Regions from separate parts of the Homo sapiens genome. Here all the other regions are reported to be linked to region 4. Evidence: microRNA targets listed by miRTarBase, many of them from high-throughput screens and not tested one by one. Region 4 holds a microRNA gene; each other region holds the end of a gene's coding sequence. Distances are from middle to middle.
What was found. The annotated mature microRNA hsa-miR-590-5p reads GAGCUUAUUCAUAAAAGUGCAG and lies in region 4 at 2,746-2,767, shown strand. An mRNA with a match to its seed (bases 2 to 7 or 8) in the 3' UTR can be bound and repressed. Matches are read on the target gene's strand: a 7mer-m8 pairs with bases 2 to 8, a 7mer-A1 pairs with bases 2 to 7 and ends in A, and an 8mer does both.

Region 1 (5,195 bases), 54 Mb from region 4:
ACATATCCTAAGGCCCAGAACTGCTCAATAATTTTTTAAAATCCTCTTTTCCATTTAGTGATCAACAGTACGTACCACAAAAACTAGTCCTCTTTCTGTCTTGGATCAAATTATGCTTGGTTATGGGACATGGACATATTCCAGTTAATACAATTAAAGAATCAAGCTGCAATGGAATAATGTGATTGAATACCTTAATCATGGCTATTTCCCAAAGGAGGGTTTTCTATTGAAAATATTTTCATAGTAAACGCGCAAGAAAAATTAGAGAGCTTTTTGTTTTGAATCAAAGGTAATTTCAATCCCGATTTGAAAATGGAGATTTGCAAATATCTTTGGCACTATTAATTGAAGTGTGAACATTATTTACTTGATAGACTCTTTGATTTACTTATTCCAATTTTTAATCCATTTATTTGTTTGCTTCATTACAGAATGTTTCTCCAGCCCAAGCTACTTGAGAATATTTTTCATCATTTTCATAGTTACATTCTTGATTGGGTTGCTTAAAGTCCTGATCATTAGACAGGTGATACTACAATGGAATAGTAATAAAATTAAGTCCTCATCAGATTACAGAGTGTCAGCCTCAAAAAAGGTCAGTGAATTCTAAAAAAGAACTGCTAACAGTATGTTATTGCCTAGTTACAATATTTAGGCCCTTAGTTAATAATAATATTTCTTCTCTATTAAGGATAAGTTGATTCTGCAAAGTGTTTGCACAAGAGCAGTCACCTACCGACGTGAGAAGCCTGAAGAAATAAAAATGGATATCAGCAAATTAAATGCTCATGAAACTTTCAGGTGCAACTTCTAAAAAAAGATTTTTAAACACTTAATGGGAAACTGGAATTGTTAATAATTGCTCCTAAAGATTATAATTTTAAAAGTCACAGGAGGAGACAAATTGCTCACGGTCATGCCAGTTGCTGGTTGTACACTCGAACGAAGACTGACAAGTATCCTCATCATGATGTGACTCACATAGCTGCTGACTTTTTCAGAGAAAAATGTGTCTTACTACTGTTTGAGACTAGTGTCGTTGTAGCACTTTACTGTAATATATAACTTATTTAGATCAGCATAGAATGTAGATCCTCTGAAGAGCACTGATTACACTTTACAGGTACCTGTTATCCCTACGCTTCCCAGAGAGAACAATGCTGTGAGAGAGTTTAGCATTGTGTCACTACAAGGGTACAGTAATCCCTGCACTGGACATGTGAGGAAAAAAATAATCTGGCAAGTATATTCTAAGGTTGCCAAACACTTCAACAGTTGGTGGTTGAATAGACAAGAACAGCTAGATGAATAAATGATTCGTGTTTCACTCTTTCAAGAGGTGAACAGATACAACCTTAATCTTAAAAGATTATTGCTTTTTAAAGTGTGTAGTTTTATGCATGTGTGTTTATGGTTTGCTTATTTTTGCAAGATGGATACTAATTCCAGCATTCTCTCCTCTTTGCCTTTATGTTTTGTTTTCTTTTTTACAGGATAAGTTTATGTATGTCACAGATGACTGGATTAATTAAGTGCTAAGTTACTACTGCCATAAAAAACTAATAATACAATGTCACTTTATCAGAATACTAGTTTTAAAAGCTGAATGTTAATAGGGGACACTGTAAAGTATCATCAAAACCTGAATAGCTTCATTGTGCACAAGTGTGGAGTTTTGTATCCTCTTACCTGGTAAACTGAAGGGATTGTTTGGCCATTTCATTTATCTTATCATTAATTCACAAGATAGTTAGAAATTCTGCCTCAAGCAAAGTACCACATTTTGAATGTTTTCTTAGATTTTGATTGCAAGTAGATATCAGCATTTTTTAAATGAAAAGCTATATTATCTTCTCCCTTCAAGGCAGCCTAAGGATGTTCTTTCCCAGAATCACTCCAACCCTTCTTGCCAGAATTCATAAAAGTACAAAATTGGAGAATAGATGATATCTTAGAAATAAGCTTTTTTTTTTTTTTTTTTTTTTTTTGAGACGGAGTTTCACTCTTGTCACCCAGGCTGAAGTGCAATGGCGCAATTAGGGTTCACTGCAACCTCTGCCTCCCGGGTTCAAGCAGTTCTCCTGCCTCAGCCTCCTGAGTAGCTGGGATTACAGGCATCCACCACCGTGCCCAGCTAATTTTTGTATTTTTAGTAGAGACGGGGTTTTGCCATGTTGGACAGGTTGATCTCAAACTCCTGACCTCAGGTGATCTACCCTCCTCGGCCTCCCAGAGTGTTGGGATTACAGGCATGAGCCACCATGCCAGGCTGCTAATTCTCCTTTTTAGTGAGTTAGGGAACTGAGCCTCAGAAAACTTAAACGATTTCTCAGAAAACACTCAAGTGATAAAGTGGCCACATTGGAAAGGAGTTTTTATCTTCTCATTGTCAGGCCAGTGTTCATTGCACAATATCATGCTACCTCTTGAATCTTTAAAATATTCAATTGGCAAATGTTTTTCAATGTGATTTACTCATGTCTTAAGTGTATGAGGAAAGTTCAAAGCAAAATAGAAAGGAATAATTCAAACTGAATTGTCCATAATCAGCTTCCAGTCTTTCATGCTAATCAGCTTCTTAAGAGACTGAAGTATGGCATACCTACAGGGGAATTCCTTCGCACCATAGCCTGTATGAACAGTGTTCCCTGGAGTTCTCCAGTGCTCAGCTTGAGACCTTGATACACGGGCCATGAGCCCTGTCTTCCCCAATGGAAATTTATTTACACTTACCTTATCCCTATGGACTTAGTCTGATTTTATTGGCTAGGAGTCTAACAGTCCTGTGTGGATATACAGTTTTGCCCATGACAACAAAGGAATCTATCCGAAATATCTTTTTTTTTATAATAAACTTCCAAGATTTGCTGTCTTCCAGCACTTGAGTTAAAGTACTAGATACTGCATTTTGATGAAGACTAACCCCATCTCATATTCTACCCTAAAGAGAACTGAAAAACCTATAATAAGTTGTTCTGGAGCCAATAAACACAGCAGCTCTGTTAGATGTCCTCTACAGCCAAGCACTTTCAATGCTAACTTGAACTGCATTTCCTTCCTCAAATGAGAGATTGACATAATTCAGTACTGTGAGTCACTTGTATAAGAAACCTTTGATCACTAAAAATAATGTAAAAATTGGGTTTAGTAGCCTAATACACATAACGTTCTTCTTAAAAAGGAAAATGGATGGATGCCTGACAACCCTCCAAAAGAAAAAAGTGTAAGATAGCCATTAAGATGATGACAATTTTTGAAATGAACATTATGATATTTATGAACAATAAACAAATTTCCGTATGGAATGAATTATCCAAAAAGAGTATAACAAAATGAAATCCTTAAAAATCCAGAGTTTATATTTTTTTTATACCCTCACTTGTTTGCACTAACTTTATAGTGGACCAAGGCTGTTACCATAGGAAGGGACAAACTTCCTTGTAGGCAACTCAGTGTTAGACGATGATTGTGGTTATGCTTGCAAAGTCTTGTGCTTATCTTTTTTGTTTTTACTTAAAAAGCTAATTTTTAAAGATTGTAGGGCTTGTATTTTACTTGAATAATTGATATCTTCCTGTGTAATGATTTGTGAGATGAGAATTAATATTTGACTAGTTAGAATTAATTAAATGGTAAGGGAACACAGGGTACTCTTAGGTTAAATAATGTATGCAAATAGAGTCTATTTTCAACTAATATGGCCACAGGAGCCTTTTGAGATTCATTGATATTAAACACAATTAATGAAATTTTAAATTGTTAACAGAATTGAGAACTTGAACAACACTTTTAGTACTGCAGCATTTTTGTGCCCTAAAGTATGTAATGATTTATAAATGTGCCATACATACACTACAACATAACATTTGCTTTGTTATGCATTTTATTTCTCTGGGGACACCATTGCACTGCAGTGCACACGTATTTATAAACATTTGTTATATTTTTGGAAACTTGCTAATATTTATTAAGTCATAGACTTTTCTGGAGGACTTAAAAATTCACTAAAAATCTGATTATGTCTTAAATGTTCAGTTTATCTTTGGTTTATTAAAATAAAAAAAAAATCTAAGATTAAACACAGTAGATATCTCTGGAGGCAATTTTCCAAAACTCAACATTAAAATTTGTGGATGCATGAGATGCAATCCTTCAAAGAATGAATCTGAAATATATTTTTAATATTTACTTAATATCCACTGAAGATATCTTTATGCAAGACAAGAGTCAGCCATCAGACACTGAAATATATTATGATAGATTATGAAGAATTTTCTCTGTAGAATTATATTCTTCCTGGAACCTGGTAGAGTAGATTAGACTCAAAGGCTTTTTCTTCCTTTTCTTACTCCTGTTTTTTCCACTCACTCTTCCCAAGAGATTTCCTAAAGCTTCAAGCTTAATAAGCCTAATAGTGAAAAATAACTGAATTTAATGGTATAATGAAGTTCTTCATTTCCAGACATCTTTAATTGATCTTAAAGCTCATTTGAGTCTTTGCCCCTGAACAAAGACAGACCCATTAAAATCTAAGAATTCTAAATTTTCACAACTGTTTGAGCTTCTTTTCATTTTGAAGGATTTGGAATATATATGTTTTCATAAAAGTATCAAGTGAAATATAGTTACATGGGAGCTCAATCATGTGCAGATTGCATTCTGTTATGTTGACTCAATATTTAATTTACAACTATCCTTATTTATATTGACCTCAAGAACTCCATTTTATGCAATGCAGACCACTGAGATATAGCTAACATTCTTTCAAATAATTTTCCTTTTCTTTTATAATTCCTCTATAGCAAATTTTTATGTATAACTGATTATACATATCCATATTTATATTTCATTGATTCCAAGACATCACTTTTTCAATTTAACATCTCTGAAATTGTGACATTTCTTGCAACTGTTGGCACTTCAGATGCAGTGTTTAAAATTATGCTTGAATAAATATTACACTAATCCAACTTTACCTAAATGTTTATGCATCTAGGCAAATTTTGTTTTCTTATAAAGATTTGAGAGCCCATTTATGACAAAATATGAAGGCGAAATTTAAGGACAACTGAGTCACGCACAACTCAACATGGAGCCTAACTGATTATCAGCTCAGATCCCGCATATCTTGAGTTTACAAAAGCTCTTTCAGGTCCCCATTTATACTTTACGTGAGTGCGAATGATTTCAGC
Region 2 (5,195 bases), not on the chromosome of region 4:
AGCCCCGGGGCGCACGGTTGGCCCTGCGCCCCGCCGCAGACTTCACGCTCGGCCGCGGGGCAGACGCGGCAACAGCGGCACAGGTCGAACACCGGCGTGGTCCCCAGCGCGCAGGTGGGCAGCGCGGGGCAGCGCGTGGGCTGGCAGACCGCGGGGCAGGAGGGCTGGGTATGTAGCTTTTCAGCCCCGGCCCAGAGGACGGGCACCAGGAGCAGCAGCAGCCCCGGCAGGAGGCATCGTCCCAGCCCCGCGGTCCGCAGCTGAGGTCTAATCATCCTGTTCCTTCCTCGCTTCCACTCTTCAGTGACTTTACTCTGGACCTGCAAACCCTCCTAAATGAGAGACACTTTCTCCCGGCCACGGCGCCGCCTCCGCCGGCCCCCAAACTTTAAGGGGCAGAGCCTGGCATACCTCTGCATATACACACCCGTACATCCCCTACCACCCGCCCCCGTCGGCGCCCCGGAGCCAGGTTCTCCCCCAGGCAATGAGGGGAAGGTCTCTAGCCCTACCCGGAGCAGGAACCTACCTCCTGAAATCCCTAAAACCGACAATGAGGGCAGACTGATAAGAAAGCTCACCCACCCATGGTCAGAAGGTCAGTATTAGGAAAACACATGACCATATTTCAGTATTTCACATGGTTTTATTACAAAACAAGCCACAAAACAGTTTTAGAAAATTTTTGCTACATACCAATTAGGAGATCACATAAAATGAGAAGCGTAACAGTTTCCATGCACTCAGCCTAGAGCTTACAGCGAGTGCATTTCACAGCTGAAACATCACTGCTTTAAAACACAGAATCATGCTACCCCTTCATAAGCAGAGGGGGAGGAGGTCAAACAGTATGTTTTTGCCAAACGTTTGCTTTATCTGAACTCTATCTAGTATGAAGGACTGGCTGCCGCAGGCAATAACACAGAGAGGAAAAGGAACAAAGGAAGAAAAGGGTGCTGGCAGACAAGATTTAACAAACCTGTCCACTTCCGACATTTTGAAAGTTTATAAACAAAGCTCACTTGGGGACACTCAATTTCCAAAATGCTGTGACCTCCACATGTTATCTAATTTATACTGAAAACAAACCTACTAAACTCCACTCCTCAACTACTGAACCTGCTATTTATTCATGGGGTCTTTTTAGCCCATATAAGAGTATATTTATATTCAGAAATATAAAAGAAAAAAAATTTGCTTCAAGTAGACTAAGAAGCTGGACCTTAAAACTACTTTCTTTCTCGTGGGAGCTGAGTATTCAACTCAGAAATAGATGTATAACTCCAATATTCTGACCTGACATCAATCTCCATAATGTATACCTCAATACCCTTATGATGTCTCACTTAACACTAAAGGCCAAATTATTTTTACCAACCATCAGCTGACATTGAGTAAGCAAGTCTTTTGAAGATTTCAAAAGTAATAGATGGTGGCCAGGCGTGGTGGCTCACACCTATAATCTGAGTACTTTGGGAGGCTGTGAGGCAGGAAGATCACTTGAGCCCAGGAGGTCCAGGCTGCAGTGAGCCATGATCAGGCCACTGCACTCCAGCCTGGGTGACAGAGTGAAACACTGTTTCTAAAAATAAAAATTAAAGAATAATGGATGGCATTATTCAGCCATGGGGAGGACCACCTGAAATACTGTTACACACAGTGGGTCAAGACCACTTCAAAAGCCTTATGAAAATAGCACAACTCAGGCAAGGCTTTTATTCCACAAAGAAAATGCAGTACATTTTTTAGTTCCTTTAAAAAAAAAAAAACTCAGATTTACTCCAGAGCCTATGCACTTAGTCACTAATCTATACTGCATCCCCAACCTATTTTTTCCATTTGGTTCAATTTTATACATTTAAAACTAACTGCTTTGGTCAAATACGTACCATCTTTGGTTCACATTAAAAGATTATGGTCCAAAACTGGCCAGAAGTTAAGAAATATCAACAAAATAGGAAGTTTGAAATACAATTTAGGAATGGAATGCTTTTAGAGCTTGTTTCATTGAAGATAATAATTTATCTCATATTGAACTACATTAACGATGTTCTGGCTAGGTGCAGTGGCTCACACCTGTAATCCCAACACTTTAGGAGGCCAAGGCAGGAGGATCACTTGGGCCAGGAGTTTGAGAGAGCCTGGGCAACATAGCCAGGCTCTGTAGATAAAAAAAAATTAAAAATTAGCCAGGCGTGGTAGCACAACCCTGTAGTCCTAGCTACTTGGGAAGCTAACATGGGAGGATTGCTTAAGCCCAGAGATTCAAAGTTATGATGAACTATGATCACACCACTGCACTCTAGCCTGGGTAAGAGAGTGAGACCCTGTCTTTTAAAAATTAAAAAAAAAAAATTAAAAACAAGCAATGCTCTAATGTGGAATTCCCAAGTGTTTGCCAATTGACAAGAAGATTTCCATTTGACAGTCTTAGTGTCCTCGTTTCCCTTTATCAGGATAATACCATATGGATTCTATGTATGTTTAATTTGTCACATTCTCAAAAGAGATCTTGCTGAATAAGAAACAAATCAGCTTATTATAATGGCCAATTAATTTAGCAATAGTAACCTATCAGATAATTTTTTTTTTGAGATGGAGTCTTGCTCTGTCGCCCAGGCTGGAGTGCAGTGGCGCGATCTTGGCTCACTGCAAGCTCCGCCTCCCAGGTTCACACCATTCTCCTGCCGCAGCCTCCCAAGTAGCTGGGACTACAGGCGCCTGCCACTGCGCCCGGCTAATTTTTTTTTCGTATTTTTAGTAGAGACGGGGTTTCACCGCGGTCTCGATCTCCTGACCTCGTGATCCGCTCGCCTCGGCCTCCCAAAGTGCTGGGATTACAGGCGTGAGCCACCTTGCCGGCCTTATCAGATAATTTATTTAAAAGAAAAGAGAGAGAGAGAGATAAATGGGTAGATTTTCACAATGTATACACCAAAAGAGGACATCTTTTCCGTGAGTCAGGGAATATTTAAAGAGATATCAAAAGTCCCTATTTTCATGAGTTCCACATCACATATTTTGTGCTTTCTTTGAATAGCCAAAAAATTTTCTTGGGGAAAATACGAGAGTAAAACCAGAGCTAAGGAGCTATAAGAATTTGGAATGGCTTCTTGAAATCATGCCGCTCCAAGTATGTCATAACCTCGATCACTCAAAAATACATAACTCCCAAACCAAGAATTTCTGAGGGCAAAAGCACACCAGCGTGTATAGGAAAGGCAGGGGAAGGGATGGAAGGGAGAGAAAGAGGGAACAATGTAGATTTCCTGTTTTATACCAGGAAAACTAGGCCAAACTCAATTTAAATGAATAGCTCCAAAGCAGTGCAGTCAGAAAAAGTTCTCAGTGTGACATAGACTTCAGGGAAACAACACGTCCTGAAAGAAACATGATTCCCCTCAAGCCACAAAGGATTTTCTCATCAAGTGTTTTCACCTCTGCATTAGATTTGGACACAAGAAGAGGAGAGCATTTACTCAGGTAAAAATAGTTCTCTTAGTCTCTTCCTCTAGTTACTAATTTTTAATTTAAAAATACAATTAACTGATCTAGCTGATAAAAGTCACAGACAGAAATAAGCTAAGTTCTCTCTTCCTTTAGGGAACGCTGGTGGCAATTCACCATATAAACTGGATGGAAGAATTCTCCCAGGGACACTGGAAATAGCATCTTCTTATCAAATGGAAGGAGGTACGCCCTAAAATTTGGGTGGGACACTCAATTTTCTTTTATATTTTGAGACGGAGTTTCACTCTTGTTGCCCTGACTGGAGTGCAATGGCGCGATCTTGGCTCACTGCAACCTCCACCTCCTGGGTTCAAGTGAATCTCCTGCCTCAGCCTCTGAGTAGCTGGGATTACAGGCCTGCACCACCACGCCCGGCTAATTTTGCATATTTTTTAGTAGAGGCGGGGTTTCACCATGTTGGCCAGGCTGATCTCGAACTCCTGACCTCAGGTGATCCACCCGCCTCAGCCTCCCAAACTACTGGCATTACAGGCGTGAGCCACCATGCCCGCTCAAAACTCAATTTTCTAGGCTCTTTTATCTGAGGAATCTCTGGCCAGCAACTCATAACATCTAAATCAATGTTTCTATGCCAAGCTTCTATTTCATTAAAAATATATATCTCTCTCTAGATTCTTTTTGTATCTCTTCATGTTAAGTGCATGGAAATTCATCCTATTACAGGGTCTGATCATGCAAGCACACAAGGCTTCATTCAAAGGGCAACAGCAAGAAGAAAGAGAAAGCAAGTTTGCAAGGGTACAAAACACATAGCGCTTAAAATTAGACTAATGCTGGCCCATTCCAAAAGAGCTGCGAGGCACCTGGACTGAAAACAAAATGAAAAAACTAAAACAAGGACAAGGAAATAAAACTTGGTCATTGGTGAAACTGGACTTCCAGCCCCCTCTGGAGAGGAGCTGCTAAAACAATCCCTCTCCAGGAAGACCTCAGAATAGTTAGAATAGAATAGGTAGCTTCCTCTCCACTGAGTATGCCTACAGTTCTAACCTAGTGACTTCCCCAAATTAAATACACTGCGTTGATATTACACACACACACACACACACACACACACACACACACAGCCCAGCTGGATGGGCCCCTCCCTCCCAAAGAGCATCCACAGGAATATGAGTGACATAAAGGCCTCTGACTACCCTCCAACAAGGTAGAGAAACTGAGTCACAGCCTCCTTCTCTCAAGTCCTCCCTCCCTCCCTCCCTCCCATGGCACTGTGCTCCATCACACATCAGAGGTCCGTATGTTTTCATCATCAAGGTTGAACATAAACGGCTTCTCCTTGGGGTGCTGGGGCTCCGATCTGTGCCTTATCCGGGAGCTGGGCAGCACCCCAGGAGCGCTGCCCTCCCCAGGACGAGGCGTGAACAAGGAGTCCTCTGAAGTGTCTCCAGGTGGAAGCAGCTTCTCCCCAGCCTGGGGGACAGGTGTCCAGGGCTGCCAGGAGGAGGCCACAGAGGGGGCTTTGCAGAGGGCTTTCTTTTCCTCCAAAGGTGGCCGCCCCCTGCACAGGATAGAGTTGGGCCCACTTGAAAGGCTGGAGCTTCCAGGTCGGGTCAAAGAAATGGATCTAGAAAAGGACGTTTCCTATAAAAATAAAAGGAAGAAAAAGACAAAAGAAAGTTAGGGCTTTTCAGACAATGTTTATCACAGAGTCCCAGAAA
Region 3 (5,179 bases), not on the chromosome of region 4:
GAGCTGTGAGAGGAGACCCAAGGGAGAGAAGCAATGGCTTCTCCGTTAGGCTTAGGGGTTAGAGGTGCTAACAGCTCCACTTTGAGGCCTGGCGTGTTGTACTATGCCTTGTGGTTTCCCTACATCCTGCCCACACCTTTATAAATAGCCCCTTTATTAAACTTTCCTCCAATTAATCCTAATTTGGGTGGACCATTCGTTTTCCTGCTAGGACCCTGACCAACATAAATGGTTAGCCTTCTTCTTCTTCTTTTTTTTTTTTTTTTTTTTGGATGAGACAGGGTCTCACTCAGTTGCCCAGGCGGGAGTGCAGTGGCATGATCTTGGCTCACTGCAGCCTCAACCACCCTGGCTCAAACCATTCTCCCACCTCGGCCTCCCAAGTAGCTAGGACCACAGGGACATGCCACCATGCCTTTGTATTTTTTGTAGAGATGGGGTTTCGCCATGGTGCCTAGGCTTGTCTCGAACCCCTGAGCTCAAGTGATCTGCCTGCCTCAGCCTCCCAAAGTGCTGGGATTACAGGCATGAGCCATCGCGCCCTGCCTAAGTGGTTACACTTCTGTTTGGCAAAGCAACTGGTTGCATTTGCAGTAGAGTTCAGTGGGAGATTGGTCTGGAGAAGACAGAGGAGGTGGTCTTTAGGAAAAGACCCACCCCCTGATTACCTGGTGGGTGTTGGCCAAGATAGGGCTTCCACCTATGAACCTTTAGGCAAGGATGTACCGCCCAGTAGACAACATCCCAAATATGAAACCGTTTCCCTCAATTTCCCCGCACAGGGCAGTGAGGTAACCACCTCCTCCCCATTGCAGACAGAGGAGGTACCTTGCCCTGATTACAGAGAGAGATAGATATGTACAGAGAAGGCTCTAGAAGGATTCTGCACTTATTTGTAGAGGCAGGGAGAGGAAGGTATGGGATTTTTTTTCCTTTATTTATATTTCCAAGTACTTGGGGGAAGGTGCACACGTAACTTTTACAAGGAAAAAACAATACAGTGAACTTCATTTTGGAATAATGGAAAAGTGGGTGGAGCCAGGGGACAGAGTGTTCACCCTGTGAGGCTTCCTTCCCTACCCTCTCCACCATCAGCCTAATGCCCTGAGGCTGGGCTCTAGAATGAAACTCAACCTTAGACTTGGCATTTGCTCTCTGTGTGAGGCGTTTTGCTTTGGGCCGGGAGACAACATGGTGAAAAGCACTCCCTAAACTGCCCTAGAAAGTGAGCTGGCGAACTGTGTCAGTTACTTTTTATGATTCCTGATGCTCCTTGAACCTGTTTGCTCAGACCCACCCAGGCTCACCTGGCCTTGGAACTGTTTCACTCTGCTCACCTTCTGGCATCTACCTTCATGGCAACCTCCTTTATGGCCAGTTCCATTTCTGAGAAGTACAAATCCTGCCTGGCTGCCTTGTGCCAGGGAAAGCCTGGACCTGGCCTCTGGCCGTGGCTTCACCCTGACTCCCTGTGTAACCACAGCTTGGTCCCTGTACTCTTGGTTTCTCTCTGTGTGCACCGTGGAAATCTGCCCTCCAGCCCCAAGATTGCTGGACTGCTGGAAGGACTGGCTCATCCCTGGGAATGACGCCTCTGCCTTCACTTTCTCTCAGCTTGCAAAGTGCACAACTCAAGCCTCTTCTGCAGCTGGGAGGCAGGGAAGGAAAGGCCCCTGCAGCGGGGCCTCCTGTCCCTCTGAGAATTAGAGCACCCTCTGTGGGAGTGTGTGGGCCTGACTCCCATCAGCCCAAGGCTGAAAGAGAAGCATTGAATCAAACGAAGGAAAGTGCAGTTTCTTCAGTGACGATCAGTGTTCCTGGTGGGTTTAAGTTTCCTCCCACAGTGGAGCTGAAAGAGACCCTGGCTGAACTCTAAGGGTGGGGACCAGGCCTAAGGGAACCCTGGCCCCCAGCCTGCTCAGTTATTATTTCCTCAGGAGAGTCCAGGGTGCTCACAGGACAGAGGGAAGCACTGCCTAGTAACAAGATCAGTGGATGGTCTTGAAGGTCTCGTGGCACTGAAGTTTGGGGCACACAATCCTTTGCAGGCTAGAGCTATCCAGGCTGGTCAGTGTAGCTGGAAGGGCAAGGGCAGAGGCTTAGGATGCCACTGTGGCCTGGCATTCAAGCTGGGCACATCGGATCTGCCTTATACTTCCCCACACCACGCCCCTCACAACATGTCAGCCCTGCTGTTCTACCCCTGGAACGGACCTGGACTCTGTCGTTTCTGCACCTTTGCTCAAGCTGTACCTCCTACTTAGAATGCCTTTCTCAAAGCCATCTGGCAAAGTCTCCTGGTTTCTTCCAGGCCTGGTGCAAACCAACCCTCTTTTCGAGGGCTTGCGTCTTCCCCCTTGTTAGATGCTCCCTCCCCCAACTCACACCTCCCATGGCAGGTTGCCTGTACCATTTGATCACCTTCTCCAACCTGTCCTATTAAACGCCTTGCATTTTCTTTGAGATGGGTTCTTGCTATGTTGACCAGGCTGGAAACATCTACTTCTCTAATAAAAAATCTTGTCAGTCCTGGCTATTGTCCTAGCCTGATGAGAAAAGATGTCTATGGTAGACAGTGTTATTCAAAATACTTACTGTCCCTCCCCCAACACACACAAAACACCGTGGGAGGACTGTATGTCCCCACCCTTTGAACTCTGGAGTGGCCATGTGACTTGCTTTGGTTAGTAAAACGTAGAAAGAAATGACAGCATCACTTCCAAGCAGAGAATTCAGGGCCAGCTTGTGGTCCTCTATGTCTCTTTTCTGCCCTTTGTGAGGACGCTGGAATGGGTCTGGAGTGAAGATAGTATCAGGTGTGGCAGCTGACCCACAATGGACATGTGAAGGGAACAAAATAGAAGCCTCTGTTGTAAGCCACTGAAGTTTTGGGGACTTAGCCTAAGCTGATTGGTACCACTTCTCTGGTCCCATCAGCAGCCCTCCATCTCCATATTCCCATGGTCTCCCTGCCCCAGGTGTACCCTGGAACTGGAACATCAGGACCAGCACAGTGGGGAGAACTGCCTAGTATGCAGTCTTGGAAGGCCTGAAGCTCTCTCTGTCCTTAAGGCTGAAAGCTGGGGTCTTTGTATTTGACTCTCTGTCACTGCCTGCCCTCTGGTCTGACCAACTGTGTCCTAGCTGGCCTGTTCTCCCAGGGCCCTTGGCTTGGGATAATAGCACTCCATGACTTCTTTTTTTTTTTTTTGAGACAGGGTCTCACTCTGTCTCAGGTATGAGACAGGTTGGGGTACAGTGGTGTGATCTCAGCTCACTGTAACCTCCACCTCCCAGGTTCAAGCGATTCTCCAGCCTCAGCCTCCCAAGTAGATGGGACCACAGACATGTGCCACCATACCCGGCTAATTTCCATGACTTCTTATCCCCGAGCAAAGGACACAGCTCACCTAAGGGTGATCAGTGGTTTCCTTTTTGAATGTCAACATTGCTTAGAAGCATGCATGATCATATAAAAATTATTTTTATTAAAATAGAAAAGCTTTCCAGTATATTGCATTAAAGACATTTATACAGAAAAAAGGCAATTGCAACAAGCATGCTACATCAGCACTGACATATTCTGAAAGCTTTAAGTGCCCATTTTTCAGCAACATTTTGGTATAATACGCATATCCCTATGTATTTCAGAGGGTACATATAATACTGAAAAAATACTTCATGTAAAATCTAAGTTCATGTGCATACACACAAGAAGTATTACATCAAATAGCTTATTTCAAACTGTGAAACACATTCAAAGTATTCAATTTCTTAGACAACATGCATACATTTTAATACTCAGCTTGACACTTTTAAATATATAAACCACAATTCTTTATACTTCTATATCAAAAAAGAAAGTCAGACAGAACACTTATCTACATTGTGCATATCACAAAAAGCAAATGTGTTTTCACGAATGGAAAGCACTGGGTTAACACACATGATTGTCATTTTACAAATATGGCTATTCACCTTCTTCATAATAAAATAGAAATATAATGTATTATTTACATGAACTACACATTATTTCACTTTTTGGCAATTATATAAGTAGCAGCAATTGGTTTAAAGATTGATGTTTAAAAACTCTACATTTAACTTGGATGAATACCGATGAATATATATCTGGTTAATATAAAAATTGCATAATGCAAGATGCTTTGATGCAATGTCACTTCTCCCTTTCACAAAAGTCACAGACACAAATCCGTGACCAGTGAGCCTGTTGCTTACAACATATAATTATATGAGTGTCATTTAATCAGCTTGCTTTTGCATAACACAGTAGTTGGGGTTCTGAATTAAATTTCTGTAATTTAATGCAAATTTGCCTGATAATTTACATAATTTACATAATTTCAAAGATGTTTTATCTATGTTTCATATTCTTTAATGGCAGTGGCTCTTCACTGGGACCCCTAGCTTCTAGCCAGAGTAGGTAATTATCTGTAAACAAAACAAATGCAACGGGAACCTTAAATACTTCAAAAAGAACTCTGAAATGAAGTTTGTGAACCTGATAGTACAGTGAATTATCTTTCTAAAAAGTGGTCATCTCATTTCCCAGCGATAAATTTGCTTTAGAGTGGGGGACCCTTATGGTGAGGAAATGTAAATCATATGGCAGTGGTCTACCAGGAAGAGACATTCTGTTTTCATTAGTATTTGGAACAACACATTTTAACATTTGTAAAAACAAAACAAAAATCCTACTAATATTGGCGGATTAAAAAAAAAAATACTGTGTGGCGAATAGAGGTGACATGTGCCTTTCCTTGGCCAATATTCAACTACAAACCAGCAGTCCTGAATGTCTTTTTCAAGGCAGGAGAGTGAGGTGGAGGAGCATTCTGCACTTTCCGTGGGCAGTCAGTTATATGTCCAGAGCAAGTGCAAGGCAAGGCCCAAGCTGAGGGGAAGGAGGAGGGAGTGGCAAGAAGGCCTGGCCCTGACACCGGCCGATGGCACACTGCTGGAGACCTGTACCTGGGAAATGATGAGGGCAGAGAGAGGGACATGGGACGCCAAAGTCGGGCTGTCAGAGTTGATAAGGGACTCAATCTTCTCTGCTTCTTTATTGCAGGCTTCAATCTGTGAGGAGAAACAAGGTTCCCTTAATATAAAACCACAGAACGTTTTCAACATCAAGCCAGACAAATTCCACGTATATCCT
Region 4 (5,195 bases):
GTGACAAGTATGGGGTAACTTGGGGCGGGGAGCTGTGCCAGCAGTCGAGAAGGCCTTGCTGACCTGGGTGGTTTTGTGTGTCGGTGGCACTCTTACTCTTTTTGACTTCAGAATCTGAAGCCACATGTAGTGTGTAATCAAACAGTGAAAACAAATATATCAGTTACACTTGTGAAGTAAGCTCCAGGAAGCATTAGGAACTAAACTTTGGGTTGGAGTGTGTGGGTGAGCCTAGCCTTTGGGCTGGGTCAGTCGCTGCAGGCTTTGGAGTTTGGCTCATGAAGGACCATCTTCATTTGAGCAGCTCTAGAAGATGAGATTGGGTGTCTGTTGCTTCTGTGAAGTTGGGGGTAGTTTTCTCCATTATTCTCAACATTGAATCCACTTAGGGAGGAAACCTGGGGGGACATCCCTCCAGCCAAGGCAGTATGTTCTTAACACACAGTTGGTAAACAGGGAAAGTTTGGACTCAGGCCTTTAGAGCACTTGCGGTCTAGTGGGCTTCAAAGATGAAGTGTGATTATTAAGTTATTATACACAGGGCAAGGACGCTGGGGGAGAGGGGATGCAGGGTGTAGTGCCAGCATCTGGGGAGTAATGAACTAGATTTAGACTCCAGACAGCAAGGAAGGGGCAATGTCAGACCCCTGGCATCAGGGACACAGGTTGTCAGTAACAGGTACTTGGACCCAGGCTGCCTGTCTTTTAATTAACATTCAGAGAAGAATGCCCTGATTGCCAAGGATATATTTTCAGCTTTGTGAAGCAAATTTTATGTCAGTTACCTGAGTAGTAAGTTAAATCGGCACTTTAAGCCTCTTTCTTCAGAGCATTTTAGGTACCAAGTTTGAAATCTACGAAATCTAATCCTCACTTAGATTAAATAGTCATTCAGAAGTCAGAAGAGCTCTGCAGATGGCCTGAGAAAGGTTTGAATATTATGGTTAAAACATTCAAGAAGAAAGCTTTCTAGAAACGCAGCTGCTATTTCAGTGCATGTTCAGTTAGCATTTTCTGACTGATAAAATAGAATTGAGAGGGAGGAATGCCAGTCAGGGTTCTATCTATTGAAAGGCTCTCCTAGTCTGCCATCATCTAGACAACAGAATGGTAGTTGTGACGTGGAGAAGTAGTATGAATAGGATCTTCCCACATCTTTAACCCAGAATTACTTGAGGAAATCGGGGTCTTCTTTTCTTTTCCAGGATTCTGCTATGTAGAATTCGATGAAGTGGATTCCCTTAAGGAAGCCTTGACATACGATGGTGCAGTAAGTATCCTCGGGTTTTCTCTGTCATAGCAGTTGAGATTGTTTTCTTTGCCAATACTTACACTATTTTCCCTTTATCATTAGCTGTTGGGCGATCGGTCACTTCGTGTGGACATTGCAGAAGGCAGAAAACAAGATAAAGGTGGCTTTGGATTCAGAAAAGGTGGACCAGATGACAGAGGTGATTGGTTCTTCTAAAGCTGAACATCATAAAGATTTGCAGTATGCCTACCAATTCCAACTCGTGAACGTTCCTAGTAGAACTCGATTATCTCATAGGTGTGATAGGTTCTCGTGAGCTCTTAAAAGTTTGCGTAAAATCCTAGAAAGAATGGCTGATGCTTCTGCAAGCCTGGCGTTTTTTGTTTTCTGTTGGAAGCAAAAGCTCTTAAAATGATTTCATTGAACCTTCCATCACTTGAGTTGTATGTCTTCCAAATGAATTTTTCCATGTTTGCGCAGCAAGGTAATGACACGACCTCAACTTTATCTTTTTTGTGTATCCTCAGGAATGGGTAGCTCTCGAGAATCTAGAGGTGGATGGGATTCCCGGGATGACTTCAATTCTGGTATCAGTATTTAAAGTATCACCACTTAATTTTTCCTAGGAGCCTTGCTGCTGTTCTCTGTTTCTTACGAGTAGCCCGCCTGGCCGGACTACTTATTTAGTTCCTTTAACAAATACAACTCTCCTGCAGGGTGCCCAGGCATGCAAGTAAGCCTCTGTTAGAGCCTGTGGGGGCAGGACTTGAGCCCCATGCACCTTGTGTGGTCACCTTTGTTAGCCTGCAGCTCCTTGGATGTGTACGGGCCTGGGTCCTTGAGCTCGCTCAGCAGTCTTTCTCAGACTCTAGCCCAGGGAAACTCCTCTGTGGTTTTGTGTATGGCACCAAGAGAAGTACTGTTCCTTCTGGAAAACATAGGATAGAGGTTTGGGTTCTTACATGGTGAAAGGTAGTCCTGATGGCCCTTTTTTTTCTTGGAGGATTGTGGGGAGGTCCAGTCCCTTGATGGTGGACCTGATGCACTTCGCCGTTCTCTTTCTTAGCCAACCCAGGCAGAGCAGCTGGTGGTATAGCACAAAGCATCAGTCCACACGCCAGGCCTCTGCCCTGCAGGGTGATTTTAAGCATTTTTATCATCTTTACTTTCTGTTTTTAAATTACAAAAGTATAATTTTTTATATATGCACATGATAAAAACTTCAGTTGTAACCCAGAAAGGTAGGAAGAGAAAAACAAATTTGTTTTCTTTCCCGCAAACTTGGGATGTGCTGTCAATGCTGTGCTGTATAGAACGTCAGCACCCTCCCCCCATCAAAACAAAACCGGTGTAAAGTAGTGGGTGAGTATGGGAGGGACTGGTGCACGCTGTCTTGTGAGTCTGAGATTTTTAAAAACTCAGCTTTGGCTGAACAGGTGACGACTACCTGTTGAATAATATAGTTCTTAAAAGTCCTGTAGCCAGTCAGAAATGAGCTTATTCATAAAAGTGCAGTATGGTGAAGTCAATCTGTAATTTTATGTATAAGCTAGTCTCTGATTGAAACATGCAGCAGCTGTCTTCTTAGAGCCAACCAGCAGCTCAGGGAACGGCCTTTCCCCTGCCAGTTTGGTATTCGCAGGTGTTATAGAAGTTGCCCACATACTAACGTCTTTCTACCCTTGGCTTAGCTTGGCCACTGGCGCTCAAGCAGAGACACAGTGAACACGGCCATGGCCTGGCCGCCACCAGTTCTGGTGGGAACTGCAGTGTTTTGGTGACATCTCAAACCCTATGTGGGCTCACTCGATGGAGTAATGGCTAATTTGATACTTTATACGTTATTTGCGAGAGTAGATCTTTTTTACTTTTTAATAGGATGGTGCTATTTTTTTTAATGATACCTGCTCATGTAAAAAACAAAATAGAGCAACAGAAAAGTACCAAGAAAGCAAAAACATTTCATCATCAGAAATAGCCAGTGTTAAACTAAGCTTTGTAAAGAAAACTCTGAAGATTCTCATGAATAGTTTGCTTCCTAGAAACCCACCAACAGATTTTTTGTTGTTGTTTTTTTTGAGACGGAGTCTTGCTCTGTTGCCCAGGCTGGAGTGCAGTGGTGCGATCTCGGCTCACTGCAAGCTCTGCCTCCTGGGTTCATGCCATTCTCCTGCCTCAGCCTCCCAAGTAGCTGGGACTACAGGCACCCACCACCACGCCCGGCTAATTTTTTGTATTTTTAGCAGAGACGGGGTTTCATCATGTTAGCCAGGATGGTCTCGATCTCCTGACCTCGTGATCCACCTGCCTCGGCCTCCCAAAGTGCTGGGATTACAGGCATGAGCCACCGCGCCCGGCCCCCACCAACAGATTTGATGAGAGATCCTTGTTCATCTGCTTCACCAGCGTGGTGTGAGCTATTTGTTTCACGCTAGACATTGGTGGTCGAAATCATTTAATCTCATAGTAAAGGGTGTAAATTTACTTTGTACTCACGTGGAAAGGTACACTTCACAGTTTAGTTTGGGGGAAACGTGAAGTTAAATGTTTTAATACTAACTAGGCTTGTTCACTGAACTGTGTAATGTGGGTAAAATACTTTGTAAAGGACCTTATACTCGACTGTATGCCTCCCAGTGTATTTCCCCTAAAGCAGTGCTCTTATTGGTCTAAATCTGTTCAGACTTGCTTTCATTACTTGGTTTGTTAAAATTTATTATTTAACTCAGTCTCTGAACTGGGTGTGAGATCCCTTGGTTTCCAAAACCCTTGCCACCTTTAAAGAATAGAAATCGGCCCCCACCACAGGTGATGCAGTCAGCGCTTATCATTGGAGGTGGTTCTGTGGAGTTGCTAGAACACTGAATGAGCCCGTGCGGTGCTGCTCCTGTGTGCTACAGATCACAACATTTTCGTCAGCTGATCATACCTAACATTGCTTTATGTGACTTTTTTTTTTTTCTTTTTTTTTTTTTTGAGACAGAGGCTCACTCTGTTGCCCAGGCTGGAGTGCAGTGGCATGATTTCGGTTCACTGCAATCTCCGCCTCCAGGGTTCAAGCGATTCTCCTGCCTCAGCCTCCCAAGTAGCTGGGATTACAGGCGCACACCACCACACCCAGCTAATTTTTATATTTTTAGTAGAGACGGGGTCTCTCCGTGTTGGTCAGGCTGGTCTCGAACTCCCAGCCTCAGGTGATCTGCCCACCTCTGCCTCCCAGAGTGCTGGGATTACAGGCGTGAGCCACCACACCCAGCCTATGTGACCTTGATTTTAAAGACGCCTCATTTAATGTTAGTGTTGATTCATTTAATAGTGTTAACATTGAACTCAGGGCCAGCTGTAGTAAGTAGTCTGTGGTGCCATCATTTCAGCCTGTTAGAAAGCTCATCCCACACCGGTTTTGTCTGTAAGACACCTGACAGCCAGCCTGCACTTAAGAACAGCAGACAGCACTTCACACTGCACCTGGGGCCACTTCAGACAGCGATGTCACCAGAAAAAGCCCAAAGGGCAAAACACCCGACACTCATCGTGAAAAGACTTGACAGCTAATAACTGAAACAGGCAGAGCATTATCGTTTTCTGCCTCAGCTGGGATCGTCGCATCTGTGCAGGTCCAGGACTGACTGGAGAAATGCTGCTGGTATCTAGCTTGGGATTACACATGAATTTTAGCGACTGGGTGGATTTGCAAATATGGGATCTGTGGATAATGAGGATGACTGTATAGTGCATACTGCGGGCTCTGGGGGTTCTTCTCAAAGACAAGCTCCCTGAAAGCTTGGAGCCTTGGCACCACTCTCGCAGAGAGTAGCAGTGGCACCCCCTGAGTGCGCAACCAACAGCAGCAAGCTCATTTGTTTAATTATGGTTTAACTTCTTTTCGCCAGTTTTTTTTTTTTTTCCTTGAGACAGAGTCTCACTTCATCACCCAGGCTGA

Region 1: miRTarBase lists ITGB8 as a target of hsa-miR-590-5p. Seed matches in the 3' UTR shown: 7mer-m8 at 1,961-1,967.
Region 2: the mRNA of PLEKHA2 is a reported target of hsa-miR-590-5p. Seed matches in the 3' UTR shown: 7mer-m8 at 2,534-2,540.
Region 3: miRTarBase lists RECK as a target of hsa-miR-590-5p. Seed matches in the 3' UTR shown: 8mer at 3,731-3,738.

What each region holds. Positions count from the first base shown.
Region 1 is chr7:20,409,181-20,414,375 of GRCh38, forward strand. It overlaps ITGB8 (integrin subunit beta 8), which reads left to right. Exons shown (of 14, transcript NM_002214.3): 13 at 435-598; 14 at 695-5,195. The coding sequence ends at 817. Among named protein-coding and RNA genes, the nearest start is that of ITGB8-AS1, 80 kb to the left of the region's middle.
Region 2 is chr8:38,969,344-38,974,538 of GRCh38, reverse strand. It overlaps PLEKHA2 (pleckstrin homology domain containing A2), which reads right to left. Exons shown (of 12, transcript NM_021623.2): 12 at 627-5,118. The coding sequence ends at 4,756. HTRA4 (HtrA serine peptidase 4) reads right to left here and starts at 311. Exons shown (of 9, transcript NM_153692.4): 1 at 1-311. The coding sequence starts at 275. RefSeq lists a silencer at 1-144.
Region 3 is chr9:36,122,742-36,127,920 of GRCh38, reverse strand. RECK (reversion inducing cysteine rich protein with kazal motifs) reads right to left here. Exons shown (of 21, transcript NM_021111.3): 21 at 3,466-5,097. The coding sequence ends at 4,876. Among named protein-coding and RNA genes, the nearest start is that of GLIPR2, 11 kb to the left of the region's middle.
Region 4 is chr7:74,188,468-74,193,662 of GRCh38, forward strand. MIR590 (microRNA 590) reads left to right here and starts at 2,731; the gene lies at 2,731-2,827. EIF4H (eukaryotic translation initiation factor 4H) reads left to right here. Exons shown (of 7, transcript NM_022170.2): 3 at 1,206-1,270; 4 at 1,355-1,451; 5 at 1,780-1,839.